6 separate regions of the Homo sapiens genome follow, and all the other regions are linked to region 3. The links come from fine-mapping of genetic effects on gene expression. A gene starts in region 3. Each other region holds a variant in brackets. All regions are shown on one strand. Distances are between the middles of the regions. Region 1 overlaps GALNT2 (polypeptide N-acetylgalactosaminyltransferase 2). Region 2 holds the start of LOC124904542. Region 3 holds the start of GALNT2 (polypeptide N-acetylgalactosaminyltransferase 2). Region 4 overlaps GALNT2 (polypeptide N-acetylgalactosaminyltransferase 2). Region 5 overlaps GALNT2 (polypeptide N-acetylgalactosaminyltransferase 2). Region 6 overlaps GALNT2 (polypeptide N-acetylgalactosaminyltransferase 2).

Evidence for each region. PIP is the estimated chance that this variant, and not a neighbour inherited with it, causes the effect.
Region 1: its variant is fine-mapped to the expression of GALNT2 in cerebellar hemisphere (GTEx, PIP above 0.99). The same link has a PIP of 0.9 or more in cerebellum.
Region 2: its variant is fine-mapped to the expression of GALNT2 in whole blood (TOPMed, PIP above 0.99).
Region 4: its variant is fine-mapped to the expression of GALNT2 in esophagus mucosa (GTEx, PIP 0.99).
Region 5: its variant is fine-mapped to the expression of GALNT2 in blood mononuclear cells (TOPMed, PIP above 0.99). The same link has a PIP of 0.9 or more in T cells, fibroblasts, lung, monocytes and whole blood.
Region 6: its variant is fine-mapped to the expression of GALNT2 in whole blood (INTERVAL, PIP above 0.99).

What each region holds. Positions count from the first base shown.
Region 1 is chr1:230,134,141-230,139,337 of GRCh38, forward strand. The region is part of intron 1 of GALNT2 (polypeptide N-acetylgalactosaminyltransferase 2); the gene reads left to right. Among named protein-coding and RNA genes, the nearest start is that of GALNT2, 70 kb to the left of the region's middle. RefSeq lists enhancers at 2,777-3,277, 3,278-3,778. The variant G/A (reference allele first, on the strand shown) is at 2,737.
Region 2 is chr1:230,269,070-230,273,655 of GRCh38, forward strand. All of the region lies in intron 14 of GALNT2 (polypeptide N-acetylgalactosaminyltransferase 2), which reads left to right. It overlaps LOC124904542, which reads right to left and starts at 3,041. Exons shown (of 5, transcript XR_007066928.1): 1 at 2,601-3,041; 2 at 566-656. RefSeq lists an enhancer at 1-175. The variant G/T (reference allele first, on the strand shown) is at 1,645.
Region 3 is chr1:230,064,786-230,069,982 of GRCh38, forward strand. It overlaps GALNT2 (polypeptide N-acetylgalactosaminyltransferase 2), which reads left to right and starts at 2,453. Exons shown (of 16, transcript NM_004481.5): 1 at 2,453-2,621. The coding sequence starts at 2,496. RefSeq lists enhancers at 1,669-1,828, 4,183-4,262 and silencers at 1,959-2,768, 3,209-3,268.
Region 4 is chr1:230,222,803-230,227,999 of GRCh38, forward strand. The region is part of intron 3 of GALNT2 (polypeptide N-acetylgalactosaminyltransferase 2); the gene reads left to right. Among named protein-coding and RNA genes, the nearest start is that of GALNT2, 160 kb to the left of the region's middle. RefSeq lists enhancers at 3,245-3,746, 3,747-4,246. The variant A/G (reference allele first, on the strand shown) is at 2,185.
Region 5 is chr1:230,279,638-230,284,834 of GRCh38, forward strand. GALNT2 (polypeptide N-acetylgalactosaminyltransferase 2) reads left to right here. Exons shown (of 16, transcript NM_004481.5): 16 at 1-2,485. Among named protein-coding and RNA genes, the nearest start is that of PGBD5, 140 kb to the right of the region's middle. RefSeq lists an enhancer at 2,663-2,822. The variant C/G (reference allele first, on the strand shown) is at 2,281.
Region 6 is chr1:230,147,357-230,152,553 of GRCh38, forward strand. All of the region lies in intron 1 of GALNT2 (polypeptide N-acetylgalactosaminyltransferase 2), which reads left to right. Among named protein-coding and RNA genes, the nearest start is that of GALNT2, 83 kb to the left of the region's middle. RefSeq lists an enhancer at 2,866-3,095. The variant C/T (reference allele first, on the strand shown) is at 3,117.

The DNA of each region.
Region 1 (5,197 bases), 69 kb after region 3:
ACTCTGTCACCAGGCTGGAATGCAGTGGCGCAATCTCAGCTCACTGCAAGCTCTGCCTCCCGGGTTCACGCCATTCTCCTGCCTCAGCCTCCCGAATAGCTGGGACTACAGGCTCATGCCACCATGCCCAGCTAATTTTTGTATTTTTAGTAGAGACGGGGTTTCACCACGTTAGCCAGGGTGGTCTCAATCTCCTGACCTCATGATCCGCCCGCCTTGGCCTCCCAAAGTGCTGGGATTACAGGTGTGAGCCACTGCACCTGGCCTATTTGGTATTTTTGAGAAGTGCAGCTCTAAGTTGGTTTTATCCCCTTCCCCCAATTCCTAACCAGTTGTTCAGGTGAGACAACCATTTGTTATTTCTTTGGTTTCAGAGAAGCTGTATCTATCTATCTGTGGTGTATCCCTCTCAAACCTCCCCTCATTCTGGGTTGGGCCCAGGAGGAGGGTATCCAACCCAGACCTGGTGGAGAGGAGCAGCTTTTTTTAAGGCCAGTAGTGCTCAATATTTATAAACTCCTTCTGTATCAGCTCATGAGACATTTCACAGTTGTACTCTTCGCCTGCTTGGCTGTGTGACTGAGAGGAGCTGGGCGTGGGGTGATACAGCAGCGAGCAGGTGAGGTATCGGGGCAAGCCCACCAGCATCTCTCCCGTGTCATCTGCACTTCAGTATTGGATTCCTCCCCGTGGACCCAGTGCTCAGAAAATCCAAGGCCAGTCTTGGTGCTACCACTTGCTTAGACAAATCACTGAGTTGTCTGTGTCAGCCAGTTTCTCCGCTGTATTTAAGTATGATCAGTGTGAACTAAAAACCTATTTGGCCTGCCTGTTGTGAGGCTTAAATGAGAGGAAGTATCTGAGAGTGTTTCAAATCATCTAAAGCATTGCCCTCACATAATTTCAAAGCAATATTAATGTATTAATTTGAGCCTTTAGGTGCTAAGGGTTGTAAGATGCACCATCATTTTGTCAATTTTAAGATGCATTCCCCATTTCAGAGATGTCGGAACAGGAAAAGCCATGCATCCTGGAATTGGTGTTTGGTCCTGACTCTCATGGGGGGTGAGAAATGGTAGAGACAGTGTCCTAGACTCGGGGGTGGGGATGCGAGGGGTGTAGAGGAAGACAGTCATGGATACCCATATTTTATTCTCTAATGATACAGAATCTTCATTTTGGGCCGATTCCTGTGGCTCTATTTTCTCTTTGTAATTCTACTTTGCGATGCATGTTTCAGAAGAGAAACCATTTTCCAGCTTTCTTCATCTCATTTCCGTTGTGCTAACAGAGAAACTCTGAATTCATCTGAGGTGCTTTTTACTTTTCTTTCGGTGAATTGTCAGGCATGAGCCACAGAAGCCATCCGAATCAGGTTTCTGTGTGGAAATCACACGGCGGGGAGGTGGAGGCACAAAATGATCTTAATGACATGCACATCTTCCTGCTCCCTTGTGGAGCTGAGTGTGGGGGGCCCTTTGCAGTCTGGCAGGCTCGGCTCTGGATTTGAATTCAGTCTCTGCCATTTATCACTTGAGGGATCTCAGATGAATGCTCTTTCCCTTTCCCTTTCCTTGAGACACAGTCTCCCTGTGTCACCCAGGCTGGAGTGCAGTGGTGTGGCAGCCTCGACCTCCTGGGTTCAAGCAATCCTCTTGCTTCACCCTCCTAAGTAGCTGGGACTACAGGTGTGCACCACCACGCCTGGCTAACTTTTTCATTTTTTTTTTTTTTATAGATGGGGGTCTCACTGTGTTGCCCAGGCTGGTCCTGAACTCCTGGTCTCAGGCGAGCTCCCCACCTCCGCCTCCCAAAGTGTTAGGATTACAGGCGTGAGCTGCTGTACCTGGCCAAGTGCTCTCTTTCTGATCCTTAGTTTTCTCTTCTGTAAAGTGAGGATAAAAGGATATATTCTGGAGCGTTGTCAGGAGAATTGAATGAGCTGCATGTGTAAGCCCTAGCAGAGTTTCCTGGGTATAGAGGAGGCACTTAGTCAGCGTCACCTCCTTCCCATCTTCTCAGGAGTTGGAGGGTGACAGAGCAGAGGAAATTTAGGTTTTCACTCTTCTGGGGGTGGGTCAGGTAACTATGATCGAACCTGCACGCATTGTTTTAGTGCCACGTTGATTGGGTCGCGCCTGATCATTTGCTTCTGGTCTGACTGTCCCAGATCCCTGTCAGCACATGTCTGGCACCAGCCATCCTCTGATAACCCTGCCATAGAGCTCCAGGAGAGAGTGGGGCCTGTTCCTGGTGGCCTGAGTTGTTGAATTGTACTCTTTAGACATCGAACCTAATGTTTCAAAACACACATTCATTCGTGAGGCCTGTCTGCCGCGCTTTCTCTCCCGGATGTGAGTTCCAGCACATGCATGCACCCCCTCACTGCCCCCCATCCAGAGCCACAGCCTGCCCTGTCGGAATATGTCCAGCCCTAATGAGGGAGGCGTTGTCTTCAGATCACACACTCCGCAGCGGCTCTGCTCTGCCGCGCCCCTTCAGGAGCGCTGGGTCTGAGAGAGGACTTCAGAAATAACGGGGGCAACGTTCCGCTTTGATGCTATTATTAGAATTTTCCAAACACCGCTTGTTTGTAGCTTCACAGGGACTTGGAGAGAGGCGAGTGGGAAGAGGTTGCTGCTAGTGCCATTGTACGGGAAGCTCAATGGCATTTATCTGGTCCAAGGTCATTCAACAAGAACAGGTTGAAATCACCCTCAGACCGAAGAGCCGGCC[G/A]TCTGTGCATTTTGCTTTTCCCGCAGTTCAGCCGGGACTCTGCTTCACGGATGCTTTCACCTCACGGACAGCGAAGCCAGACACACAGGCCCTGCGTGGTTGGGGGCGAGAGCATTTTTCCATAGTCAGTGGGCTATTCCGAAGCTAAGAGACCGTTTCCTTGAACCAAAAGGCTGATTCTTTCCTGCTGGAGCTCCTGTTTTCATACTCATTTCCCTGGGGAGTGGAGCTGAGGCGTGTGGACTGTTCCCACCCCCGCCTGCACCCAATAAGCTTTGGGGGAGCCAAATAGTGCTTTTCACTGGAGCCTGAGTGGATGCAGGGAGGCACACATGCTTCATAGAAGGGAATCAGTGATCTGTCCCGCTGCTCTGGGGCTCCAGCATGGAGCTTCACGTAGGCTGGGGTGGGGTTGGTTCTGTGTGACAGCCTGCACAGAGGTGGTGGATATGGCCGAAGCCACTTCTGCTTCATGCTGTGTTTGGGCCAGATGTCCTTGGTGGCTGGGAGGGTCTGCTGTGGAGGTGCCCATGGTCAGAGAGCCTGCAGGCTGCAGTGGCTGACCTCTCCCCTCCCCACCTGGCTTTGCTGAGAGGGTGCTTGCTGGGTGTTCTCAGCTGGGCAGCCAGCCGAGGCTGTCACAGTGACAAGGGAGGAATTATTTTCTCTTCAAGGGGTGGATGTGAATTACTTAATTATTTGCAGAAGTTTCATTGCTTTTTACTTACATTCTCCTGATTCCTCCCCAGTGGAAGCATCAAGACCCCACTGCAACAGGCTCGTCAGCATCTTGTCACAGCTGTGGATGTTTGCCAGGCTTTCTGGACGAGTCCAGCTCTAGATTGCAACCTGGTTTAGCTACACACGTTGAAAAGGAGAAGAAAAAAGTAGAGATAAGATAGGATTTGGCTCAGGATTGATGTTGTATAGGGTTTGACTTTTATTATCTTTCACTCTTGAAAAGTGAAATATATTCTCCTTTGATTTCTGTTGACGTTGTTGGAAATAGAGATTTCCTTCAAGTCTTTAAACAGCATTATTATCGTTTCCTAGGTTCTTAGTTTTGATTTGTTTTACAAGCAGTAGTGCTTCATTCTAATCCTCCTGCATCCATTTTACCTTTTTCTCCTTGGAATTTGTTCAGTGATGACTTAATAGAAAAAACACCTTGCATGTCGTTGCGTGCGTCTTTTCCAGACCTCTGTCTGTGGCCTCTTCTCCTTTCATCTGCCATTGCCCAAGTGTTACTGGAAAGGGGTCCTCATCCAGACCCCAAAGGACGGTTCTTGGATCTTGCACAAGAAAGAATTCAGGGTGAGTCCATGGAGTAAAGTGAAAGCGAGTTTATTAAGAAAATAAACAGGGCCAGGCATGGTGGCTCAGAGCGCCTGTATTCCCAGCACCTTGGGAGGCCAAGATGGGCGGATCACCTGAGGTCAGGAGTAAGAGACCAGCCTGGTCAACATGGTGAAACCCCATCTCTACTAAAAACACAAAAATTAGCCAGGCATGGTGGTGCGTGCCTGTAATCCCAGCTACTTGGGAGGCTGAGGCAGGAGAATCGCTTGAACCCAGGAGGTGGAGGTTGCAGTGAGCTGAGATCACGCCTCTGCACCCCAGCCTGGGCGATGCAGCGAGACTCTGTCTCAAAAAAAAAAAAAAAAAAAATGAAACAGAAGAAAGAATGGCCACTCCATAGGCAGAGCAGTGGCATGGGCAGCTTGACTGAGTATACTTATGGTTATTTCTTGATCATATGCTAAATAAGAGGTGGGCTTTTTATGAGTTTCGTGGGAAAGGGGCAGGGATTTTCCTGGAACTGAAGGTTCCTCCCTCTTTTAGACCATCTACGGTAACTTCTTGACGTTGCCATGGCATTTGTAAACTGTCATGGCACTGATGGGAGCGTCTTTTAGCTATTGTGTTATAATTAGCATATAATGAGCAGTGAGGATGACCAGGTGTGGCTTTTGTAGCCATCTTGGTTTTGGTGGGTTTTGGCAGCTTCTTCACTGCATCCTGTTTTGTTTATCAGTGGGTTCTTTATGACCTGTATCTCATGCTGACCTCTTGTCTTATCCTGTGACTGAGAACGCCTAACCTCCTGGGAATGCAGCCAGTAGGTCTCAGCCTCATTTTACCCTATTCAAGATGGAGTCACTCTGGTTCAAACACATCTGACATGAGCACTCAGTGTCTACCCTCACGGGGGTTATGGTGTGAGGAGACCAACAAGAGCTTCTGGCTTTTTCTAGCTGCTACTTCCTGTTGACCATTGACAGCCACTTTACCCGGCTTTGGTCCCCTCACCTTACTGTTTGAAAGGTATCTAATAATCCCCATTTCAGAGATTTATATTTAAATGAAGACATTTAGATGAGAACAATCAGGGTCCTCTTGCTAAATCTGAAGAATCCCGATGTTATCGTTGAAGCCAAGTGCTCCTTCCTGGCCACATGTG
Region 2 (4,586 bases), 200 kb after region 3:
AGTGCTGACTCCCTGCTCACTCTCTGTCCCCCTCCAATGGCCACATCCTGGGATTGCTCAGAGAAATTTTTTTTTTCTTTTTTTTTTTTTGAGACGGAGTTTGGCTGTGTTGCCCAGGCTTTTTTTTTTTTTTTGAGACGGAGTTTGGCTGTGTTGCCCAGGCTGGAGTGCAGTGGTGCAATCTCGGCTCACTGCCACCTCCGCCTCCCAGGTTCAAGCCATTCTCCTGCCTCAGCCTCTCAAGTAGCAGGGATTACAGGCACGTGCCACCACACCCGGCTAATTTTTGTATGTTTAGTAGAGACGGGATTCCACTATGTTGGCCAGGCTGGTCTCGAACTCGTGACCTCAAGTGATCCACATGCCTCAGCCTCCCAAAGTGCTGGGGTTACAGGCGTGAGCCACCACAACCAGCCTGCCCAGAGAACTTTTACAAAATGCTGATGCCAGGTGCTATGCCCAGAGAGCCTGATCTAATTTGTCTAGGGTCAGAGGGCACCACCAGATCTCTAAGAGCTAACAAGTGATTCTAAATGAGGATTTGGCCTGCTGTAGTGGTACACACCTGTAATTTCAGCACTTTAGGAAGCCAAGGCAGGAGGATTGCTTGAGGCCAGGAGTTCAAGACCAGGCTGGACAACATAGGGAAGCTCCGTCTTTACAAAAAAAAAAAAAAGATTAGCCAGTTGTGATGACCTGTGCCTGTAGTCCAAGCTACTCAGGAGGCTGAGATGGGAGGATTGCTAAAGCCCAAGAGGTCGAGGCTGTAGTGAGCTGTGATTGCACCACTACACTCCAGCCTGAACAACAGAGTGAGACCATGTTCCTAAAATAATGTAAAATAAATTAGGGCCGGGCACGGTGGCTCACGCCTGTAATCCCAGCACTTTGGGAGGCTGAGGTGGGTGAATCACGAGGTCTGGAGTTCGAGACCAGCCTGGCCAACATGGTGAAACCCCGTCTCTACTAAAAATACAAAAGATTAGCTGGGCATGGTAGTGGGCACCTGTAATCCCAGCTACTCGGGGAGCTGAGGCAGAAGAATCACTTGAACCCGGGAGGTGGAGGTTGCAGTGAGCCGAGATCGCACCACTATACTCCAGCCTGGGTGACAGTGTGAGATTCTGTCTCAAAAAAATAAATAAAAATTTTTAAAAAATAGGAGTTGAGGAGCAAGCGTTTTCTAGTGGAAAGATGAACACATCAGCACATACAATGTGATGTGAGATGGCAGGATGACATGATGTATGTTACACCCTCAGCTTGGGAGCACCTTACTGCCTGGGCCAGTCTGGGGCCAGTGGGCTACTATCAGTACTTTCCAATAGAACCATGTGCTATGATGGGGATGCTCTACATCTGCCATTCAGTATATCAGCCACATTGTGGCAACTGGGCACTTGAAATATGACTAGTGTGAATTACAAGTTTAATTTCATTTCATTCTGGTGAATTTAAATGCAAATGGCCCTGGGTGCCCTGTAGCTAGCACATTAGACAGTACGGCTCAGATATTCCAGCTCACAAACCCACTGTGCGTGAGTCCTCTCTGAACCGATAGAAAGTGATGCTTTTTTGCATAGCGTGTGACACGGATGAGAAACGAGAGGGTAAGTAATATTTCCCAACTGAAAATAGGGCCTG[G/T]TGCTTTGGAAGAGTGAGGTTTGTTATCTGGTTTCCGGCTGAGCCTTGGCAGACACACAGGAAATGAGAAAATTAATGGCCATGCCTTTTAAGAGTGGCAGCTCAAAAAAGCATTTCTTAAATATTTATGAACTTTATTTTACAAATTCAGATAATTGAAATGCAACAGAAGAACAAAACGGCAACTAGCTCTGTTGTTTGCCCAGCTGAATTAGTTTTTCTGGAATCCTGTGTAAAGTCTGCTTTACAGTAATTAAGCACACAATAGCAAGGAGGTTGTAAAAACATTCAGACATGATCTTTAACTGGGTGTCAGCAGACCATCCAGCATCCGCCAACACCTGCTGCCAGGGACAGTCTGGAACCCTTCTCCATACCAGCGTTGTCCCTCTTACTCAGGACTCTCCTCTTCACTGTGAGTGGGCGTCTCTGTGTACCACAGTTTCACACATCCTGGTGGTGTCCCCAGCCCCTGTGAGTGCAGGGACGGAACAATGTGCTTCTTCCTGGCCCTCTCCATCCTGAACGCCATCTGCCTATGGGAAACACACACGGCTTCCTCTCTACACTCCACACCTTCCATACTCTGTGACCCAGTGAATAGGAAAAAAGCTGCTTTTCCTCCTTTATACTCTCACAAAACTTCTCACCTCTGACACCAGCCCTGTGGGCTTTTCCCCCCACACCAAGCAATTCTCCAATTCTCCAATTCTCTGCGGACACTGAGTGTCATGCCTGTCAACTCAGTTCTGACACTGCCTACCCAGAGTTAGCACAGACCCCACGGGTTATGGGCTTCCTCCCACAAGATGCTTCTACTCCAGATGCCAGTCACAAGTCCAAGTTGTCACCTGCTGTCTGACTGTAAATCAGGGCTCCCGCGACCTCGCCTTGAATTCATTCATTTGCAAGAATAGTTCATAGAACTCAGGAAAACGGTTTACTTCGTGGCTTACCTGTTCATTAGGAAAGACTGAAACCCAGGAGCAGCTGGACGGGAGAGATGCATAGCACGCGGTGTGGAGGTGGGGTGTTGGAGCTTCCACGCCCTCTCCAGGTGTGCCGCTCTCCCAGCGCCTCCGCATGTCCGGCAGCCACATCCCGGAGTGCAAGGACTTTGACGGAGGCCTCATCACATGGGCATGATCTCCAGCTCCTCTTCCCTTCCCAGAGGATGGGGTGGCGGGGGACTGACGGTTTCAAGCTTCTCAGCATAACCTGGTCTTTCTGGTGACCAGCCCCGTCCAGGAGCCCATTAGAGTTGCTTCATTAGAACAAGACACTCCCATCACCCAATAAATTCCAAGGGAGTAGGAGCTGTTTGTTGGGAACCGGGGTCAAAGACCAAACACTAGAATGAAAGATGCTCCTAAAACCCCTGTGGCTCAGGAAATGACAAGGGTTTTAGGAGCCTTGTGATTGTGCCAGAGACCAAATAATTATTTTTATGATGTCACACTGTCCTAGAGTATGGGTGACGTGAGTGCCTGTGGGTGCTTGGAAGAGCTGGCTGGAACTCACCCATGTTGAATGACAGCATCATAGAATGTTGGGATTCGACTCAGGGTCGGGTGGCCTTCCCCAGAGAAGGTGGCCGGCAGGGCTGGGTGGGTCAGGGCTGCCTCCATGCCGTGTTTGGAATGCTACAGTGCACAGGCCAAGCAGGTGCTTCTACTCTAGGACTCTTCAGAGCCTTTAATAGACTGAATTTCCGAGAGATAAACACAGCACAAAGTCTGTTTCCCAAATTCATTTGACCTAGAATCCGTCTTTCCTAGGATTCCTCACAGAGTAGAATGTGAGGAACACTAATTAAAAGGTGAGAAAATGGAAGACCCGGGAAGTGAGCAGGCTTGCCCAAGCCTCCCTCCCTGTTAGGGGAGGAGGAAGTCTTCAGACAGGTGAAGGTGTCTTCACTGATTCCTAGACGGGTGTCCGTGCCTCTGCATCCCCTCTGCTGATGCTGAGAGCTGGAGATGGTGCATCCCGCCAGTGGTTGTATAAGGTCTGAATGCTAGAATCTTTAGGGTTTGGTTTGGTTTGGTTTGGTTCGGTTCGGTTCAGTTCGGTTTGGAGACAGGGTCTCGGTCTGTCACCCAGGCTAGAATGCAGTGGCACAATCACAGTTCACTGCAGCCTCGGCCTCCCAGGTTGAAGCAATCCTTCCACCTCAGCCTCCCAAGTAGCTGGGACCACAGGCATGCACTGCCACACCCGGTCAACTTATTTTTTATTTTTAGTACAAACAAGGTCTCGCTATGTTGCCTAGGCTGATCTTGAACTCCTGGCATTAAGCAGTTCTCCCGCCTTGGCCCCCAAAGTGCTGGGATTATAGATAGGCCTGAGCCACCACACCGGGCTGCATCTTCACCTTTTAATGTTTTTCTAATGACGGACTATTTGTTCCAACATGATACAGATACTAGACAGTGAGGCTTCTTTAAACACTATTTGTTCCTTTCCTTACCTCTGTTTCCAAGAACCAAGAAAAAAACAGTGTCTTCATAGCACATAATAGTGCCTGAAGTTGCAGAATACATTTATTTGTGTGTCTTTCATGTTCCCCACTAGAAAGGGAGCCTGGCTCTGTGACAGCGCCGGTGTCATACAGGTGTGCAGCAGGTGGTCATGGGACAGACCGATAGAAAGACAGACAGACAGACGGAGGGGAGGGCCACTGCAGCGTGCTGGGGCTTAGAGAGGAAGGGGATGGAAGTGGATAGTGAGTCCCTGTGGGGTTTTAAACTGGAAAGGGCCTTGCTGCCCCTCGATATTAAGGGGTGTTCATCCCTTTGAGTGGGACAAATGGAGAGTGATGGTCAGAAGCCTCACCTTCCAGTCCCTGCTGTGGCCCTGCCTGGAACAGGCTCCGGCCTCCTCTGCCACCTGGGACCATGTCTCATTTAGTATCCAAAATGGTTGTCCTCTCACCCTGTCACAGC
Region 3 (5,197 bases):
ACAGGCATGAGCCACTATGCCCAGCCTGCCTGGCACTTTTGTTCCTTGTTAATGCTGCTCCACTGTTGCCTGGCTTTGCATGTTGCTGTTCAGAAGTCTGATGCCAGCATAAATTTTTATCTCTATAAGCAATTTGATCTTTTTTGCCTTTAAAATCTAATCGTTTTACTAAAATATATTTAGGAGTTGATAATTCCAGATCATTTCCCAAGGTACATGGAAGTCACTTTTGACATGTACATTTAAATTTTCCCTTATTCCTGGATTATTTTCTGGGGTTATAGTTTTAATATTAATTAGGTTTTATTGTTTAATGTTTGTACTTTAGGGACTCCACTTAACATGTATTTTGGTCTTCCTTTCCTGGCTTTTATTTTAACCTCTTCTCTCTGAACCTTTTTACTTCTATCTTTATATTATTTTCAATTTCTTGATTGTTTTCTTGCCATTCTTCAGTGTCCTTTTACATATTTTCATTTGAATATATTTTCCCTTGGACACCTTGTAATTATTCTTTGTTTCTGGGATAGTTTTTGTCATTACTTTCAATTTCCTTCTTGAATTTGCTCAACCCTTGTTGCATTTCTTCCTAATTTTTGTCTAGTCTGTCTTCAGTTCTTGAAATTTCTTATCCTAGATATGTGTGTGTGTGTGTATGTGTATACAAATACGTGACACTTTGTTCAGTTTGACATGTGGTATTACAATTTTCTTATGCTTCATGGTTTTTATTGTGGGGGTTTTCATCAGCGAAAATGTTATGATTTATTTTTTATCATCAGAAATGTGATTTCTGTTTTCTTTTTGCAGAATCTTTAAATGCAGTTGATTTGATGTTTTTCTGTTACTAGGCATTTTGAGGCAGGGTTCCCGGTTCAAGAGTGTTTTCTTTTATCTGTGTACTGAAATGCAGTTTTTAATAGATAATGTTGGTGTTTGGGGAGGGGACTGGCTGTCTTCTCTTTCATTTCTGCAGGATTTGTAATTTTCCCTTCTGACTTCCTTCTTTCCCTTCATTGTCAGGCCTCTGAAGGACATTATCTTCTTTTCGTATTTATCTGACTTTTTCCCAGAAACAAGGCTCCTTCAAGCCTCTCACCTCTTGTCCCATTTTCTTTCAAATCTCTTCCCTTGATCAATAAGGCACCTGACCTCTGTTCAGTTTTTAGTTCTTGGTGTTGGACTTTCTATTTATAAAGAGGTGACAACCCTGTACTTCACTTAAGTCCTTGGCAATAGTGGAGGGAGCTCAGTTGGAATTTGGTATCTTTTCTTTCTTCTACTTAAGTAATTTAATGTTCAGTTCATGGCATTCTCTCTAAGTAATGCTGAAGGCTTGTTTTTGTTTCGTTGAGGATATGGGTACGGACTTATATCAGGCAGCTGCCATTATCCTCTGACCGAGAAGCTCCTGAAAACATTTAATATATCAAGTTCTAAGTAAAATTTCTGTCTTTCTTAGGAACACTGGAAGCTTTGCGTGTTGCAAGGGCATCACCAAGGTTACATAGATTATGTTACAAGACAGATCGTTTTCTTGTATCGTTAAAGATGCTTAATGTGCTTTTTAAAGAACGCAACGAATGAGAAAGAAAAGATTTTAAACAATATATTATTGCTTTCCTTCTTCCTCATTTTGTGTTTATTGAAAAGAACAACTCTACCATTGATAGCTCTGTCACCCACAGAAAAATGTTCTTTTGAAAATTACCTTCTCAGTTCCTACCAACTCAAAACCTCCACATCTGCCTATATAGATAAATAAAATCGATACCAGCGGGTCAGGAATGTTTTGCTGCAAGATTAGTGAGAAAACTGCAGCAAGCAGCAGCAAAGTCGGGTTCAAGCGGGCGGTTTGCACCAAAAACTCAGGTCAGTTGGCCAATAAGAGCAAGCCCGTTAAGGGTCTGAGGTGGCCCCAAAGACCAAGGCTGAAGAGGTGACAGTCTGGGCAGGAAGCACCGAGGCCACTACCGCCCCCGTAATCGAGAGGCCCCGTGTGCGTGAGCAAGGCTCTTTGCCCACGTGTGCGCGCGCTCCAGTCGGGTCCCGGGGCAGCCACCTGTCACTCACGGGGGAGGGGGCGGCCGGCGGGGGGAGCACGCTGAGGGGCGGGCGGCCGGGGGCGGGGCGGCGCCCAGGCCCTCACGGCGGAGCCCGGCGTGCTGCAGCCATGGAGACGCGGCAGTCCCCTCCCGCGGCCCGCGCCCCGGCCCCCGCAGCCGCCGCCGATTGGTCGCCCTTTGCTCCCTGACCCCCCTCGCCGCCTCCGAGGCCGCTGCTTCCTGCTCTGGTGCCGCGCGGCGCCGCCGGCCCGGGGCGGAGCTCGGGCGCCGAGTGCGCGCCGCCGCCGAGCAGTAGCACCGCGCGGGAGGAGGAGCCGCCGCCGCGCCCTTCCCCTTCCTCCGCTCCTCCCCCGGCCCCCACCGCGCCCGCGGCCGGCCCAGGCAGCACTCGCGAGCAGCGGCGGCCCCGCCGGCGGCCGAGTTGGGAGAATGCGGCGGCGCTCGCGGATGCTGCTCTGCTTCGCCTTCCTGTGGGTGCTGGGCATCGCCTACTACATGTACTCGGGGGGCGGCTCTGCGCTGGCCGGGGGCGCGGGCGGCGGCGCCGGCAGGAAGGTGAGTGGAGCGCCCTGCCGCGGCCGGGCCCCTGCGCCCACCCCCCACCCTGCGCCCCTGTCCCCTGCCCTCTCCGCGCCGCCCCTGCGCTCCTCCGCCCGGACCTCCGCTCGCGTCGCCCGCCCTCGTCCCGGGCCTCCGCGCCGAGTGCCCAGGGCAGGGGTGCACCCGGCCCCTCTGCGCACGCCGGGCTCCGAAAGGGCGGCCCCCGCAGCCTTTCTCTGCCCCCTCTCGTGGACGTCGCCCCTCTCTCTGCTCGTCGTAATTCGAGTCTTGTCCGGCCGCCGGGAGCCCCATCCCCTGCGGTTGGAAGTTTAGGGATGGGGGTGTTGGGAAACACAAAGGGGGTGGGGAGGAGAGGAGAGAGAGGCGACCGCTTTTCCAACGCGTCATGTACAGCAGGAGAGAGGAGTCCAAGTTTCTTTTCAGCCCTTTGATACCAGCGGCTGCAAATCCTCGTCCCTTTCCCCCTGTCACTCCGCGGGGCGTGGGTTCCGTGTTTCTGCCACCTTCTTTGCCCTTTACCTTTGGGGGGCAGGGGCGGCCGCTCCCGTGCCAAGTAAAGCCCCAGGGCCCGTGCGAGCCAGGGGCCAGTGCGCCCCTGCGCCCCGAGCGAGGCCAGTCCCGGCCGTTCCCTTGCGGCCCCAGCGTTACCCTCTGCCCAACCCGGCCCCCGGCCCTCCCGCGCGAGCCGGACGTGGCCTCCTGCGCTTGCATTTTCCATCCCCACTCCCCGCTTCAGGGAGAATCCCTCTTCTGTGGCTGTGTTTTTAACATGCTCCAGGGGCCGAGTGATCTGGCTGTGGGGACCGTGTGAGCCGCTCTGCGGTTCCGCGTCCTCGTGCCGCCGCTCCGGACGGCCGGGCCCTGGGCATTCGGGAGGATGGTGAGCGCCGAGAGGAGCCGGGACAGCGCGGTCCTGCGGCCGAGCGCCGGCCGGGAGAGCAGGGCGTCGGGCTGTGTGCTGGAGCATGCCGGCAGGGGACGTTTGTAGTGTTTTACTGGCTCCTCGGCTTTGAAAGCAGCGTTATCTTTTCCGAATTCCTGTAACCCTCGTTACTGTGACATTTAGTGTCACCGCAAACCCAGAAAATTCTGAGTTAATGGAGATGGACTACGGGTGGTTGGGTTGGAACAAGAGAGTGGTATCCTGAAACAAGCCAGAGGGAACTAACTAGATGAACAGACTTCAGTTCTGAAGTCAGACCCCTAAATGTCCACGCCGGGGTTTGGCTGCTTCAGAGGTTTTTTCTTTGCTTCATTCATTCATTCATAGCCGAAGATGTTAGGTGGAATGGGTGCCTTATGTGGTTTCTGGTAAATTACGTGGATTTGTTTTATCTAGAAGGGCAGAAATAAAGCCCTCTTTCCACGTGCTGAATCGGCCTAGCTTCTGAGCTGACATTGTACTCTTAGCGTTGTTTTTGTAAAAAATGGTATAGGTAGTATATGTACGCGAAGACTTGGTTTATTCTTGAACAGCAAAGAGCATGCAGGCAGCAAAAGCCGTGCAGTCCATTCAGAGATATAATCGTGTAAAACTGGAATGATTTTTAAAACTTTGCTTCCCGGTAAACTGTGCCTTGGCCACTCTGCATAGCCTGGTGTGCTGGTGAGACCTGGCAAAGCTTTCTGCCTTTCATGCAAAGAAAACCAAACACATAAGCCACCCTTGGCGTTTCTCTTTCCTTAGTCTGCCACTTTCATTAGTACACGTGATTAGAAAGAGCAAGCGTGCTCGTTCGCCTCCCGGAGGCTGATTCCTCACTCTGGTGGGCTTCAGTTCCTGGATGGTGTGAGGGGTCTTCCATGCAGAAGTCTTCAGACACTCCTGAAGTGTGTGATTCTTAGTTTGTTTTTTTTTGTTTTGTTTTGTTTTGTTTTGTTTTTTTTAAAGAATTCCTGGTGGCAATATAGACAGGTACGGAGACCAGGTAGAAAAAGTGGGGGAAATGAACAATTAATTACACATGGATTGGTGATTTGGGATTCTATTCTTTCTGTCAACGAACCATAAAATTTAATGCTACCCCTTAGGATGCTTTAGTGATTTGTCGGTTGAGGAAGAGGTGTGTAAATGCAATAGCTTTTGAAATTGCAGTGGAAGACTCATTAACTTCGTGTGGTGGACCCAGGGTTAAAGAGAAGCCTTAAGATGGTTTCTGAAGGAGGTAAATAGAGCCCTGCTGTCACGAATGCCTGATGTATAGGAAAATCGTGTAGTCTTCTTTCTTCCCCAATTGTTTCCATGGATTTAGACACTAGAAGTGTCTCTAAATTTATTTCATTCTCATACCAAAAAAAAAATGTGGTTTGTTTGGCTTGTAAAGTATGGACATAAAAAAAGATAGCGGGCCATGCACAGAAAGGCAGAATTTAAAAGCTAGCTATAGTTTTTTTAGAGATAAGTGGACCTATATTTTTTCTCTTGCCTCATACTGTTCAAGTCAGGGCTTTTATTCCATATTTAGCCAGTTTCTGCACATCCTGACGTTTTTCATAGGGTACTAGGCTGCAGTATTGGGCTTTAGGGATCGTCTGAGGGGAGTCCAACTAGGATTTCTGCTGCTTCAGCA
Region 4 (5,197 bases), 160 kb after region 3:
CCTATGAGGCATAGGTACTGTTGTTATTGTTACTAAGATTTGATAGTTAGAGAAACAGAACTTGCCCCATTAACCAGGCTGTGGTGAGGTCTAAACAACAGCCTGCCCCCAGAGGCTGCAATCTTTACTTCTCATTTCTATGAATATTTGATGGGTATTTTTTAAAAGCTAGTAACATCTATACTCATTTCCAAATTCAAATATACATGTTCAACCAACCTGATCGATTACATTCAAAACCTTTGTTATTGATAAAAGCATTTGAAACTCAACATTACAGTGCTAGGAGTTTCTGCTTATTTCTAAGCATGAGGGGCTTAGAAGATATATATTCATGGATTATACCCTTATTGACATAAAATTACCCCACTTTATTTGTTTTTCTTTTCTTTTTTTTTTTTTTTAATAGAGATGGGCTCTCACTGTGTTGCCCAGGCTGTCCTTGAACAAGTTTTCCTTTTTTGCCATACATTTTGCTTTGCATAAATGTTAATCTCCTACTTTATTTCACTTACTCTTGATACATTTTTGTATCTTACTGATTTTTTTTCTTTTTTGGATGCCATTTTGTCTTAGGTTTATCTTTTGTAACACATATATTTTGATTTTTAAGCCAACCTGATGGTCTAAAGTTTAATAGACTCTTAGCCATTTTTTTTTTAATTTTATTCATTTACTTTTTTTGAGATGGAGTCTTACTCTGTCACCCAGGCTGGAGTACAGTGGTGTGATCTCGGCTTACTGCAGCCTCCGCCTCCCAGGTTCAAGCGATTCTCTCCTGCCTCAGCCTCCCGAGTAGCTGGGACTACAGGCACCCGCCATCACACCGGGTAAATTTTTGTATTTTTAGTAGAGACAGGGTTTCGCCATATTGGCCAGGCTGGTCTTGAACTCCTGACCTCAGGTGATCCTCCTGCCTCGGCCTCCCAAAGTGCTGGGATTGTAGGCGTGAGCCACTGTGCCTAGCCGAAAAGTTCGTCTTTTTAACCACAGGCCAAAACAGAGCAATTCAGTGTATCTGAAAAGAGTGGTGTCCTAAAATGTCACCCTCCACAGAACTTAAGCTTTTCTCCTGTCCACTTGGGACAATCAGAACTGCTCAGGGGTCCCACAGACTCCATTATCTGGCCCAGCTTTTGTGGGGAGAACTGCAAGAGTAGGGTAGGAAAGAAAACCAACTGCCTGAATAACCTCTAAGAAGGGTGCTCTAAAGGATTCACCACTTTGAGACAGGCAGAGCAGATAAAAATGAAAGCACATCTCTTCATGGAACAATGGAAGTAAAAACTAAACCCTCAGCTTGGAAACCAGAACTCACGTATCCAAGAGGACGATGGTGGGCACCAGGAGGCAGAGGGAGTTACTGGAGTTACTCTAGCAGGACCAAGGGTGCCACTTGTCCCAGGGGAGTAGCAAGAGGGAAGAAATGGAATGTGCAGTGTTCACATTGTCTGATGAGCAGTGTGAGCTTCCATCCAGAAAAGGCAGCTTGTCCCCTGGCATCGGGAGGAATGAAAGTTTAAAGGACAATAATAATTTAGTCTCTCTGAAATGACTCTAGCCTTAAATGGTGAGTGGGACCTGGCAGCTGAAGTGCAGCCCTCGGAGGGCATGACGAGAGAGTTCAGACGGCTTCATCCAGGGCTGTTATTTTCTCAACTTTCAATAGCTCTTGACTCTTGAAAAGTTTTCAGCTAAAATGTAGTGTCTGTAAAACTGGAGGCACTAAAGGGCAAATGGTGCTCTTTGAATGAAAAAACATTTTTATTCCATCAAACAGTGGCTTGCTGAAAGCTTCAAGGGGAAACCTAATGTTTTTCCCCTTCTGTTGGAGAATACTCACGTATTCTGGGCAGCATTTTCTGTGGCCGGTGCCGAAGCGTGGAGTGTTTGGTGAGCGAAGAGTGTGTTTTTGGATTCTCCGCTTGGCCTGAGTGTGTGTGCATGTTTTTTGCCTCTGGAACCCTTGGCTTTTCAATGAGATTAGAGGACTTCAAAGGGAGTACAGTAAATACGATAGGCTTGAGTTTCCTGTGTCACAGGGAGGATAAACATTTTGTTTTAGAACATGCTTCCGACTCCTATACGTTGCAGAATGCAGAAGCCTGCGGTATTCAAGAAAGCTATTTTAGACGAATAATTTCGAAGTGAGACAAACCTAAAGTTATTAATTGAGCTAATTCA[A/G]ATCTCCTGTTGACCAGATTTTTAAGAAGCTTGATTTCACAGAGGTCCTGCAGAGGTTTTTTAATGTCTTAGGATTTGGTTCTGTTTAGTTTTGAAAGACCTCTATAGAAATAAACTCTGTAGCTATTAGGACTAATCAGAAATTAGTGGATTTGGTGGAATATTATGCCATTATGACTGTTTGGAGGATTATTAAGGGTATGTTTTAATTAAATGAACATTATACAACAGCTAATGAACTTTTTTCCATTTTCCTTTTTTTGGCTTCCATTTCCAGTTTACATTCTATCCAGTAGCCTGCCTAGACTTTCTGTAGACACCATAGCAACACATCTTGAAAATGTGAAGCTGAACATCTTGTTTGGGATGGGCCCTAGTGGAAGTGCCCTGAGGTTGAGAGATGCATCCGCAGCCCAGTTTGGGGTTGGACTGAGGAGGGCCTGTTTCCCGTGGCCCCTTCTGCCTTGTGGTGGATCCAGTCTCCAGCTTGGGCTAGATCTTTTCAGCCTGGTCATGTTGGGCCTTATTCCCAGTGGCTTAGGCTTGACTCTCTCTGTGTTAGGCTTCATAGTCATGGTAGACTTTGAGGAACACAGCGTGGGCTGGGCCACTTCATGTATGGTGACCACAGGGGGTCAGATTGTGGTAGAGAGGAGGAATGGGAAATCAAAATCTGGAGGAGGCAGAGTTTTTTTGTTTTTTTTTTTTTAACCTCTGTGCTATATGGTCCATACCAGAGTTCCAGGTCTAAATTCAAGTTATCCAGATGAGTCTAATTATGGCTCCACATTAGAGAACTGTTTCACTAATAACACCTCTCACTTTTCTGTGTGTTTCTTAAAATGAAGTCTAAGAGCAACCTGTATAAGCCTTGCCTTCAGGGGCCTTTTCGAATTCAGATTCCCAGGTATCACCCAGACCTACTTATTCAGAATGGGATGGGAGAAGCAGTCAGGGCCTAGGCATGTTCATTTTCATAAGCTCCATGAATGAGTCTTATGCTCACTAAACTGTCAGAGCTTTGTGATAATCAGAAGTCTGTGGCCTTAAAGCAACTGCCCTTACCGCAGAAGCAAATCAGAGTCCTGAATGAGGAGCATGCGCCCAGCCTGCGGTTGGCTCTAGCCTGGCTGGAGCCCCACCTTCACAGCAGAGGCATATATGGACATTCTGTGTCCATTCTGTGTCCATGGGCAGCTGCATCAGGCTGCCAGGATGGTCAGTGAAACAACAGACCTTCCTGCCCTTTTCTTTCCCTTGAAATGGGAATGGCGTAAGCATTTTCTGTGGATGAGGGCAAGGAAACAGAAGGCATTCACCGCCTCTATTGCATCACCAGCTGTGTCCAGAGCCTTGATTCCAGCATCCTGAGGTGCTAACACCCTCCCCCTGCCACCGAATATCTGTATATGAATGGAGAAATGGGCTAGCAAGCAACAGACTGTATTTTAATATGTTCCTTTGATTTTTCAAACTTCTGGCCCTGCTGGCTAATTTAACGCCCCCACAGGCTCTCTCGGCTCATCTCACCTGGCTGATGGGTGCACATGGAGACTCGCAGACTTTCAGGTGCTGTGTTGGCTGGAGAAGGAAAGGTCCACGTGGCTGCAGGGCTCCCTGGGCTGCTCCATCTTTCCGAACACATGCGGAGGCAGGTGCCTTGACCTGGCTCAGAGGCAGGGGCCTCGCCACTCTCTCCCAAAGTTAGGGGAGCCAGTCATCGCACCCGCGGACATTTCTCCCCCTCCCCATTTCACTCACCCATCTCATGGTTGAGAAAACTGCCTGTGTTTCTCCAGCTGTAGAATTTGCTTGGATTTTTAACCATTTTTCCTTATGTAGGGTAGCTGAAATCAATCACTCTGTGACTGAAGAAGGTGGAAAAAACTGCAGGGTGTAAACCTAAAGAAAGCAGAAGGAAGGAAATAAGGAAGGTAAAAGAAGAAATTAATGAACTAAAAATCCAGTGGAGAGTATATATAAAGCTTCATCTTTAAAAAATATAAATCTCTAAAAATGCTGATTAACAAAAATAGAGAAGAAACATTAATATTAGGTGTAAAAAAGCAGATATAACTAAGATCATAAGAAAATTAAAAGTATACTTTTATGTAAATAAATTTGAAACTTACATGAAATTGATAATTTTCTAGGGATATTTAAGTTACCAAAGTCTCTTAAGAAATAAAAAAATGAATAAGTGCAAACCATCAAAAGAAATTTTCAGCAATAAAAAATTTGCCTTCCCAAAATTTCACAAAGCTCAAATGGGTTTGCGTAAAACCCAGACTGTTTCAGAGAATAGAAAAGGAGGAAAGCTACCCTATTTCCTTCAGTAGTATCTAGCTATGAAACCAGAAAAAGAAAGTATAAGAACAGCAAATTGTTCAATTTATGGTTATAGACTCAGAAAATCCTAAACCAAATACTAGCAAATCTAATACAGCTATATATATATATGCTATATAATACAGCTATATATATATATGCTATATAATATAGCTATATATGCTATATAATACAGCTATATATGCTATATAATACAGCTATATATATATATGCTATATAATACAGCCATATATATATATATACAAGAAGAGTTTGTTTTAGGAATGTAAAAATGATTGAATATCAGAAAATAATGTAATATATCTTCTCAGTGAATTAAAGGAGAATAGCTGTAGGTCATATTAATGGATGCAGGAGGGAAAGCAGTGAAATTCAGCACTTGTGAGGGAGTTTCCTTCACCTGATGAAAGGCATCTGTAAAACATCTATGGCAAACACAAAGCTTAATGATAAAAATCTGCTTGTGTTCAATTTAAAGATAGGATCAAGGCAAGGTTGTTTTTTACCACTTTTAAAAATTGTATATTGTGTTGCAGGCCATAATCACTGCCATCTTAAGAATTGCAAGATGTGTAACGAATGGAAAGACAGGGACAGAATGTAGATGTATTGATTTGTGGAAAATCTAAGAGAACCTGCAAACTGACTATCAGAACAAATAAGA
Region 5 (5,197 bases), 210 kb after region 3:
AAGCGAGAACTGCCCTCCCCCTCCTCTCGGTGCAGCCCAGCCGGGCCCCCTTCCCCAGGCCGGAGCGCCCCTCTTCCTTCCAGCTTTCACTTCTGCCGGCTCCGCAACTGAGTGACACCCAGCGACAACCGACTGGGGAGTGGTAGAAGCAACTGAACGGATGCGTGCGAGCTGAGGACAGGGCGGGAGGAGGGGGCACACATGCCCCAGGGGAGCGAGGAGAACTCTTGAAATCTCCATTTTCAATCCCTTCGAAATCACGTATGGTTTCCACAAAGCCGAGTCGTGTCACGTGGCAGGTTTACGTCAATAGTCCCTCTCTCTGCTCCTCCATTCGCAAGTGTCTTCCTGGGCCAGACTCCCCTCCACCTCATGTACTTGCTATATTGAGGATGAAGTTTTCTATGGTGGGACACTAAATATAAAGCTATATAGAGAAAGAATGTACGGTCAGTTCCCTATGGTTTCTGTAGATCATCGTCATCTTGTATATTCCCCACAAAGCCGTTCGCAGCTTCCGGGAGAAGGGGCCAGAGCCCGGTGGGGCCAGTTTCTCACAGAGGGAGGAGGTGGCCTTTGTCCCCTGGAGCCCGATCAGCCAGTTGGTGCTACTGCTGTGGCCAGCTGGGGGGCTTCCTCCAGACCACCGGCCTCGGCCCCGGCATCCCTGTTGGGCGTCAGCCTGAGAGTCCCTACTGTGCGTCAGAATCCACCTTGCGTGCTGTGCGTATCTGTGAACCTGGAGCGGTTACTTATTTTGACAGATATCACTTTGGGTCTTTTTACATTAAATTTCTTTTCTCTAAGGAATATAAGACATACCCCATAGCTCTGTGTGAGCCAGCAATACCGCTGCCCCCTGGCGACAGGGCAGACCAATGATGCCAGGCAGCTGTCACACGCTAGTATTGGCTTCATTGTGATCTGAGCCCTGCACGCTGGGCCTTCAGAATTAATGGCCAGCAGTGTCAGGGATGAGCCCGTCAGCCAGGGCACAGGCCTGGCTCACAGTCCTGCACACCTGCTGGCCTGGGGAGCTCCAGCCAGGCAGCGAGTCCTGCCCCGCCCGCAGCTCCCTCCCACACCCCGCCTGGCCAAGATGACTGCTTCAGGGGGCTTTGGGGAAAGAATTAGGAAGGGTCAGAACCAAACAATACCTGCTCATTTACACTGAGGATTCAGGGCGGGAGACAGGAGCCTTGGGGTCCTGTTAAACCACAGACAGTTATGAACTGAAAGTCATAACGGGGAGAGGTGCCTGGCTTCTACCTGGGTGCTCAGGAATGTTCCTCGTCACCCCTGCCACTCTGTGGTCGGTGCCCTGCTTCCTCCTCCACTCCTGGCCGCCTTCTCCAGCGCCGCACACACAGATGCTCAGTCTCAGAGAGGCTGGCACGGCCTGGCAGTCTGAGAAAAGCGTCAGTTAGGCACACCTGCAGGCCCCTCGGTGGGACAGCGGCGGCCTTGGAGTTAGGAGCCACCCTGGGAGGTTGTGCCGGTGCCATGCTCCTCCCTGTGTCTTGTATGAAAGGGGCCACTGTGTGTCTTCCTCCCCGGCGGGAGCCCCACATGTGTGCACTGTAGGACAGCGGCCCCGAGGTGGAAGCCTGGCTGGAGGGCTGCCCTATAGGTCTTCTCTTCCCGCCTCCCCTGCCATGCAACCAGATGTGTTGTGAGTGGGCAGCGTGCCCCCACGCTGGAGTAACTCCGCACGCTTCTGTCTTTCACGGTGGGCGCTCGGGGGGAGCCTGAGGAAAACCCCCTTAGGTACCTGTGCGAGGCTGTGGAGTGCAGGCCAGAGCAGGGTGTGCGTAGCCCCCAGCACCCAGGTTCTTCTGTCAGACCCTGTGACCTGCGAGCTGCTACTACTGTAAGGAGGGAAATGGATGAATCTGGCTCGTTTTAAAATCACGTTTTCTGACGAATCCTTTGCCCCTTCACCTTTACCCCGCCCGCACCCCTAGGCCCTCTCAGCCTTCCTATCATCCCACGTGTCTACCCAGACCCTTGTGCGGCCCATGCCCTGGGGGCGGCGTCCTGTCCCTGAGCTGGGAGGCGGCTTTGGATGGTCCGGGCGTCAAGAGCAGGGGTGGGCCGGGGAGGGGTCCTTTGCGGTGAGCTATGTTTACATGACACAGTGTGCCAAAGTGACTTACTGCGGTTGCGTTAGTTTTTAATCATCAGGACTATCTCACCCTCCCACTCCTGTTTTTAAAACTCAGAATTCTTTCCTAAGAGCCCTTCGAGCAAAGCGTGCCGAAGTTAGTTGTCTTCTCTGTG[C/G]TGGTCCTTTCTTATGTCCTCATAAAAGCTCAGATGATGGTATCTGTGAGTATGTTTTGCAAATTCAAAATATAGTTTGGTAATTTTTTTTTCCAGTTGATTTTTAAAAAGAACTGCTGTACAGAGCTTGTACTTTGTCCATTTTATAGATGGAAACCATCCTTGAAAATTGTTTAACTTAAATAAAGAGAAGATACTTTCTAGATACCGCTCTTTGCTGGCCAGAGTCTGTCCTGGTGTGTGAGGGCTGGGTGGGGTGGGTGTGGGGACTGGGATTGGGGTCAGCCTTCTGCAGCTCCTGCTCAGTGGCTGTTTCTTATCACCTTTTGCAGATGCGCTTTTATTGCTGTGCCCTTTGGTTGGTTATTCTTACTTGTAATAATAATCATTATCATTTGTGGAGTGTTTATGATGTGCCAGGCACCCAGCCAAGCCCTTAAATACATTTGCATTTTACAGCCACAGGGGAAGCTGGTGAAGGAAGTTGCTAGCCTGCTCAAGGTCACGTCCTTCCTGTGTACCTGCCTGGAGCCAGCCCTTGGCACTCGCACCCAGACCCTGTGCTCCAAACCAGGGGACAAATATTTTTACAGTTTTTCAAGTAGTTAAGATTTATAGACTTGTTTACCAGTTACCTGGGGCTCTTCGGTTCCATCCAGGCGTCTCTGAGGTTCTTCAGATACTATTTGTTTTATTTTATTTTTTTTGAGACGGAGTCACCTAGGCTGGAGTGTGGCGGCGCAATCTCGACTCACTGCAACCTCCGCCTCAGTGATTCCAGCGATTCTCCCGCTTCAGCCTCCAAGGTAGCTGGGATTACAGGCACTCACCACCATACCTGGCTAATGTTTTGAATTTTTAGTAGAGATGAGGTTTCACCATATTGGCCAGGCTGGTCTTGAACTCCTGACCTCAAGTGATCCGCCAGCTTCGGCCTCCCAAAGTGCTGGGATTACAGGCGTGAGCCACTGCACCTGACCTTCGGTACCTTTTAAATTCCTGCATTTGAGCCAGGCCACAGTAGTGCGTGCCTGTAATCCCAGCTATTCAGGAGGCTGAGGCAGGAGGATCGCTTAGCCCAGGAGTTTAAGACCAGCCTGGGCAACGAAGTAAGATTCCCATCTCAACAACAGAAGCAAAAGTACCTACATTTGAACAGCCCCACAAGGGTTCAAGGAAACATAACCTTGACCAATTATTTAACAATTTTTTTTTCAAGACAGAGTCTCACTTTGTCGCCCAGGCTGGAGCGCAGTGGTGCAATCTTGGCTCACTGCAACCTCTGTCTCCTGGGTTCAAGTGATTCTCCTGCCTCAGCCTCCCGAGTAGCTGGGATTACAGGCCCCCACCACCACACCCGGCTACTTTTTTGTATTTTTAGTAGAGACGAGGTCTCACCATGTTGCCCAGGCTGGTCTCAAACTCCTGACCTGAAGTGATCCACCCGCCTCGGCCTCCCAAAGTACTGGGATTACAGGCATGAGCCACCGCACCTGGCCCAAATTATTTAGCAATTTTGATTGACATTGGGGTGAAGTAGGAGGTTGGCCACTGGCAGGACTGGCCCAAATGAGTGTCTGAAACCTTCTAGAGACCACATGTAATCCATTTTCTTTCCCTATTATTTGGGACACCAAAAATTTGCTGCCATCTGAGAAGACTAAAGGAACTCTCAGCATCGTTTTGTAGCACCCACTGGAGCCCCTTAGGGATCCCGTGTGTGGTGCCTGCTCTGGCAACAGGGAGAGGTTTATTTATTCGGTAACTATTTGTTGAAAACCTGTGTTGTGCTGATAGTCCCAAAGAAGACCCAGGCTGAGGAGGAAACACGTTAAATGGTGACAAATAGGACAAGCCAAATGCAGGCTCTCGGCCTGGCGGGTGCTGCACCCTTGTTGGAGCCGTGTCTCAAAGGTTCTGTGGGATTCGGACTTGGCGAGGGAGAGCGTTGCCGGCAGGGGCTCAGCGTCTGAGAAGTCCCATCACCAGGACATAGCAGCAAGATCCCCTGATGGGGACAGCCTGGGAGGAAGAGGACAGACTGGCAGGCGGGCCCGTGTGTGAGCATTGTGAATGCTGGGGAAGGCTGTGGGGGTGGGGAATGACAGGAGTTCCTGACTGGAGCAGAGAGGGTCAGACTTGCAACGCTTTTCAGAATGAAATATCCAACCCAACTCAGTGATTGGATTCTGCGGTATAACTTCACATTGTCAAGAATATTCAACCAGAAAAATAAAATGCCTCTGACACACTCTTCTGTTCATGGACTTACCTACAGAAGAGAAGAAAAAACTCTCTTCTCAGCAGTTCTTGCCTATTTCTCAGCAATCTCCTAATACAATTGCTGTATTTGATTTTATGCATTGTTTGTGCCTGCAAATAACATACATCCTGTTTCCAAAAGCTGTCGTCTCCCCTAGGGTTCCAAAGAGGAGTGTTCGCTTAGCAGTTTCTGCCTGAGCTCCTGGGGTCCCAGGCTAGGGTGGTCTGGACAGGGGCTACAGAGAAGACCTTTTGGTCCTCAGCCCAGGTGACACCCACGGGTGAGTCAGATTTGAACCAGACTCTGGATGCAATTATAAGGAGCATTGTAGAGCAGTAGCCATGATTTCCTCTTCAGGAATAAAGACCCAGTCTCAACAAGGTGCCAGCCTCCTGAAGGGCGTGGAAAGAACCCTTGCGCGGCACCGAAGCCACTGATTCACATTCGCTGCGGAGTTTCCCTGAGACTGTCCTTCTTGCTCTCAAGTTGGCAGAATTGTCTATTGGAGAGCTTCCATAAAAAGCCCACCTAAATGGAGGCGAGATTAAAAGAGATGTTGTCTTGTATAACAAGAAATCCAAAGGTGATGGGATTCCACGTTGATCCTGGGGCTTGACATTGCTGTGGACAAACTGCTCCCTATCCGAGCGCCCC
Region 6 (5,197 bases), 83 kb after region 3:
TCTAGCTGAAAGCCGCCTACTTTGGGGTTAAGGTGTGGGTTTGCCTATATTCACTTTGCTGTCCTTGACTCTTGGCCAACATTCCTAGAGCCCCTGCCACGGGACTGCTGTGGGCTGAGACTGGTGTCGCCTCTCCCTTGAAAGCATGGCCTGCTCTGCCGTGTGCCTGGCTTGGCCACTGGTTCTCCTTTCCTGGTCCCGCGGGGGCTTTTCTTTTCTTCTCTGTTGTAAAATAATCTCAGGCCAGGGCCACTCCTGGCCTACTCTTCGATTCTGCGAACAGTGGCTGGCTAGTGGTGTGGCCACATTCCCCTGCAGTGGTTGAGGCTAAACAGTCACTGTTGAGAGAAGCTGCCTTCCTCCTCCAAGAGTCCCTCCTTCCTGCCCTGTTGCCCTCTTCCCGTTGAAGGAGAGCTTCTGTCTCCTGAGTGAGGGCCTCAGCTCTGCCTGTGGGTCACCTCTGGCTCCCAGCCTGGAAGGCATTGCAGGCTTCATGAAGAGAGCTCGTCTTTAGCTGCTATTTCTAAGCATGATTGCTTGTTGGAGGTTGGCAGTGGTAGATGCTCCTAGCACACGTCCACACCTTCAGGGCAAACGCTCTGTCCCCAGACACTGTCCCTGTTTAGTTAGTTTCCTAAACTATGATCACTCAGCAACCTCGAGGATAGTCACTGTATTATTACATACAGGTGCAGCCCTCTTACATACCTGTGTGTGTGTCCAGCCCCACTGGACACATGCCTCCCACTTGCCCACACTCTTCCCCATCCCGCTTTAAAGCTTCAAATCTGAAAAGACAGTGGCGCTGCGTGGCTGAGAGCCACGAGGTGGACTTTAGGTGAAGGGCTGCCCACCGGCACAACCAGATCAGTGGCCAGCTCGGGGCGTGCACAGTGCACTCAGAGGGAGAGCCCTGTGGCACTGCGTTATTTTCCTCCTAGAGCTGAAGCCAGAAACCTGATAGGGAAAGGGGGCGTTTTCAGGGCTGGAGTAGTTCAGCACAGTCCCTTCCTCACTGTGGACTCCTTTTCTAAATCTGCAAGTCACAGGTAACCTGGGTGCATCCAACAGGTCCCACAGCCCTGGAAAGCCCTCGTTTAACACAAGTGCTCTCTGTCCTTGCTGCAGAGGCGGCTCCACGCCTTGCTTCTAGCGGTCCCTCACTCGCCTTCCGGAGTTAACTCCAGGGTGTGGGTCAGCCTTTTCAAGGGGTTTTGTTTTCTTTTTTTTTCTTTCTTTCTATTTTTGTTTTTGAGACAAGGTTTGTTGCCCAGGCTGGAGTGCAGTGGTGTGATCACAGCTCACTGCAGCCTTGATGTCCCTGGGCTCAGGTGATCCTCCCACCTCAGCCTTCCGAGTAGCTGGGACTACAGGTGTGCACCACTATGCCCAGCTAATTTTTGTATTTTTAGTAGAGACAGGGTTTCGCTCTATTGCCCAGGCTGGTCTCAAACTCCTGGGCCCAAGAGATCCACCCACCTCACCCTCCCAAAGTGTTGGGATTACAGGCATAAGCCACCATACCCAGCCCCACTCCTCCCCACCTTTTTTTTAAACAGGGCCTCGCCCTGTCACCCAGGCTGGAGTGATCACAGCTCATTGCAGCCTTGACCTCCTGGGCTCAAATGATTCTCCTGCCTCAGCCATCTGACTAGCTGGGACCACAGGCACGTACCACCACGCCCAGCTAATTTTTGCATTTTTTGTAGAGACGGCGTTTCTCCATATTGCCCAGGCTGGTCTCGAACTCCTGGGCTCAGGCAGTCCACCTGCCTCAGCCTCCCAAAGTGCTGAGATTACAGGCGTGAGCCACTGAGCCTAGCCTACTTGTTTAATTCTTGATTGCTTGATTTCAGAAGGTGCTGCTTCTGCTTTTATGGCTCCTGAAGTCATTTTATGGTCTTGACCTTGTCTCTCCTGGAGCGGGTGGGAGGACATTGCGAGGCCACCTAGATTGGACTTGTGTGGTTGAGCACTGGGTTCAGGAACATCCCTGGAGGGTGGGTGATGGTTGCTGCCTGCTTGCTGTTTTATAGGGTGTTTCTCTTACAGGCTGCCAATAGCTTGGTGGTTTGAGCATCCTATTATTGCAGTGATTCTTAGGTCTGGCGTTGAGGGCAGCAAGATTTCTGCCTAAACATAGTCCTTCTCTGTAGTAGTGATTCTAGGATGAGCCACTGTAGACAGGGGCATGTATTGAGTGCAACAAGCGGTTGAGGGACCTTAGATTTTGAGGGTTTTTAAAAACCGCCTGATTGGTTTGTGTGCGTCCTGCCACAGTGTTACCTAGGTGGGCTTAATGAGGTGGGAGTGGGCTTTTTGTTTTGTTGTTTTATGCCTCAGCCATGTAAATATAAACAGATACATTGAATCATTCAATGTCCAGAGTGGGAAATTACAGCCAAGCCCTCCTCACTTTTAGAATAGCATGGCGTGAATAACTGCAAAACCTCCCTCTGGTCTTTCCTGCCTCTTTAAGAGTTCTGTCTCCAGAGACTGGCAGAGCCGTCTCTGGGCAGATTTGCCGAATTGTTTCAGCAGGGCTTCTCCGGTGGCCATCAGATCAATTGATCTTGACACATGGGGTGCCTCTGAGGGCTTCTCACTCTTGATTTAATTCTCAGAAACGCTTCTCAACACCGTTGGTGTCTTTCTTAATTATACCATAATAGAGGTTGACAGCCACACAGTATGATGGACCCCAGGGTGAGGATGGCTGGGTGGGCTTGTGGGGCTGCTGAGGCAGAGACCTAGGAGGGTGCTCTCCATTCCTGGATGCGGAGCCCATGAGTGGCTTAAAAGACATGCACTGGCTCCGCCCTGGGGCCAGGAGAGCCATCGCCTGCTTGGTGACTGCAAAGCTGCCTACCTCCGTGTGCTGCCGTTTTTCTGTACCGAAGCTTCCCTCTTTACCTCACCATAGGAAGCCTGAGATGTAACACTCAGAAGAGGCTTGACAGGCTTGGAATCAAAGGCATGACTTCATACATCACCCAAGGTGTCATATTTCTTCTCAGAAACTTATATTTGGATAAAACAAAAATCCTTTTTCAACCTTTGAAACGGTTTCCAACAGCTGCTTTAAAAAGACATAGTACAACAACTCCTTCCACTTC[C/T]TCTTTCTGCCCGCTTTGTTTTTGTCCGCAACCTTTGCAGAGAAGTGAATGTCTCTGTTAGAGTTGGAGTTGGAAATTGGGGAGGGATGTGTGACTTGATTCTGAAAGGAAAGTCTCATCTCTTTGGTAGAGCATTTTTGTTTTGTTTGTTTGTTTTTAGACCTTAAGCTCTACTTATAATTCTGTCTAAGACACCTTTGTGGAGCAGTTGGAGTGCCTGGCTCCTCATTAGAGAATGCGCTGCGACATTCAGCCTCTCCTTGGCCTTCTAGGATGGCGGGAGGCACAGACACACACTCCTTTTCCCACCCAGGGATTTGGCGTTCAGAATGGGGGCTTTGACTGCTTGGCCCTGACTGTGCAGTTTTCTGGATGGAAGCCTGCTGTCTTCTGAGCACAAAGGAATCCATCGTTTTCTTTGCTTCCCTAAGGAATCTATTTTCCCAGTGGCAGAGCAACTTAGAGAATTCCCAGCCAGGGCCACCATTCTCAACTCCTCAGGACGAGGCTGGTGCACCCGGCATGCAGGTGTCTGTAACTTTGTGTGACTTGTTGAACTCTTTCCTATTTAAGGTGCACTACCTGGGTTGCCTGGAGCACAATATTCTTCCTCTTGTGGAAATATGTTCAGGATCTTGTGTGGTGTCCTGGGTTTGATTTTATAGCTTTGCCAACATAATGATTACAGTTGACGATCACCGTGGCCACCGTTGTCTTTTCCCTCCATTCCCCTGCAGCTTTCTGGACCTCCGGGATGTCCTCCTGGAGGGAAGGCCCCTGGAGAAGTGTCCCAGTAGAACGCACTGTTGTGTCACTTGCTCTGACCACCGTTGACATCGCAGCACAGCGCTGCACACCCGTGACAGGGTGATGGTAGAAGATGAGGGTCGGATTGTCCACGTAGTGCCTCCAGGAAGCTCAGGATGATGGCCAAGCCAGATATGTAAGGTGGCTTTGGGGCACAGGATGATGCCCTCGAAGTAATGCATGGTCTAGTTGTTTTGTAAACAGTGCTGTTTCCTGAAGAAGCAATGATTTTCTGACTACCCGGCCTCCCCAAGATAGCCCTGGGAGGAGAATTTCTGATTCTCTCTACAGCAGTGCCTTCTTCTGTAGGATCTCCCCACATGTCCCTGTGCCCACCACGTAAGCTAAGGAAGGAAAGCAGAGCTCCTCAGTTCATTGATGGCTTCAACTACAGATGAACCAGTGTTACAGGAAAGGGGTCCCGATCCAGACCCCAAGAGAGGGTTCTTGGATCTCGCTCAAGAAAGAATTCAGAGCAAGTCCGTAGTGCAAAGTGAAAAGTTTATTACAAAAGTAAAGGAATAAAAGAATGGCTGTTCCATAGACAGAGCAGCCTCGAGAGCTGCTGGTCGCCCATTTCTATGGCTATTTCTTGATGATATGCTAAACAAGGGGTGGATTATTCATGCCTCTCCTTTTTAGACCATATAGGGTAACTTCCTGACATTGCCATGGCATTTGTGAATTATCATGGTGCTGGTGGAAGTGTAGCAGTGAGGACGACCAGAGGTCATTCCTGTGGCCATCTTGGTTTTGGTGGGTTTTGGCCGGCTCCTTTACTGTAGCCTGTCTTATCAGCAAGGTCTTTATGACCTTATTTTGTGCCGATCTCCTATCTCATCCTGTGACTTAGAATGCCTTAACTGTCTGGGAATGCAGCCCAGTAGGTTTTAGCCTCATTTTACCCAACTCCTATTCAAGATGGAGTTGCTTTGGCTCACATGCCTCTGACAAAAGTAAAGCTCTCAGGGGGCTCAGGCTGATGGGTTCCCTTTTACTTCTTTGAATCCCCAGTCGGGCTTGGAACCATGGCCTGTAAGCGCATCCGACACTTGGCTAGAATCTCGAACCTGACTCTTTCAAAGATGAGGGCAAGGTTTTTCAAATTGTAAGTTGTGACTCAGTAGATCATGAAACTAATAGAGGAGAATAACATCAGTATTCATGATGAATAATTAAATAGAAAATACTGGAGCACATCATACATGTAAGAGTAGGTACCCTTTTATGACACCGTATGTGGATGGATGGGCGTGCATGTATTTATATAACGT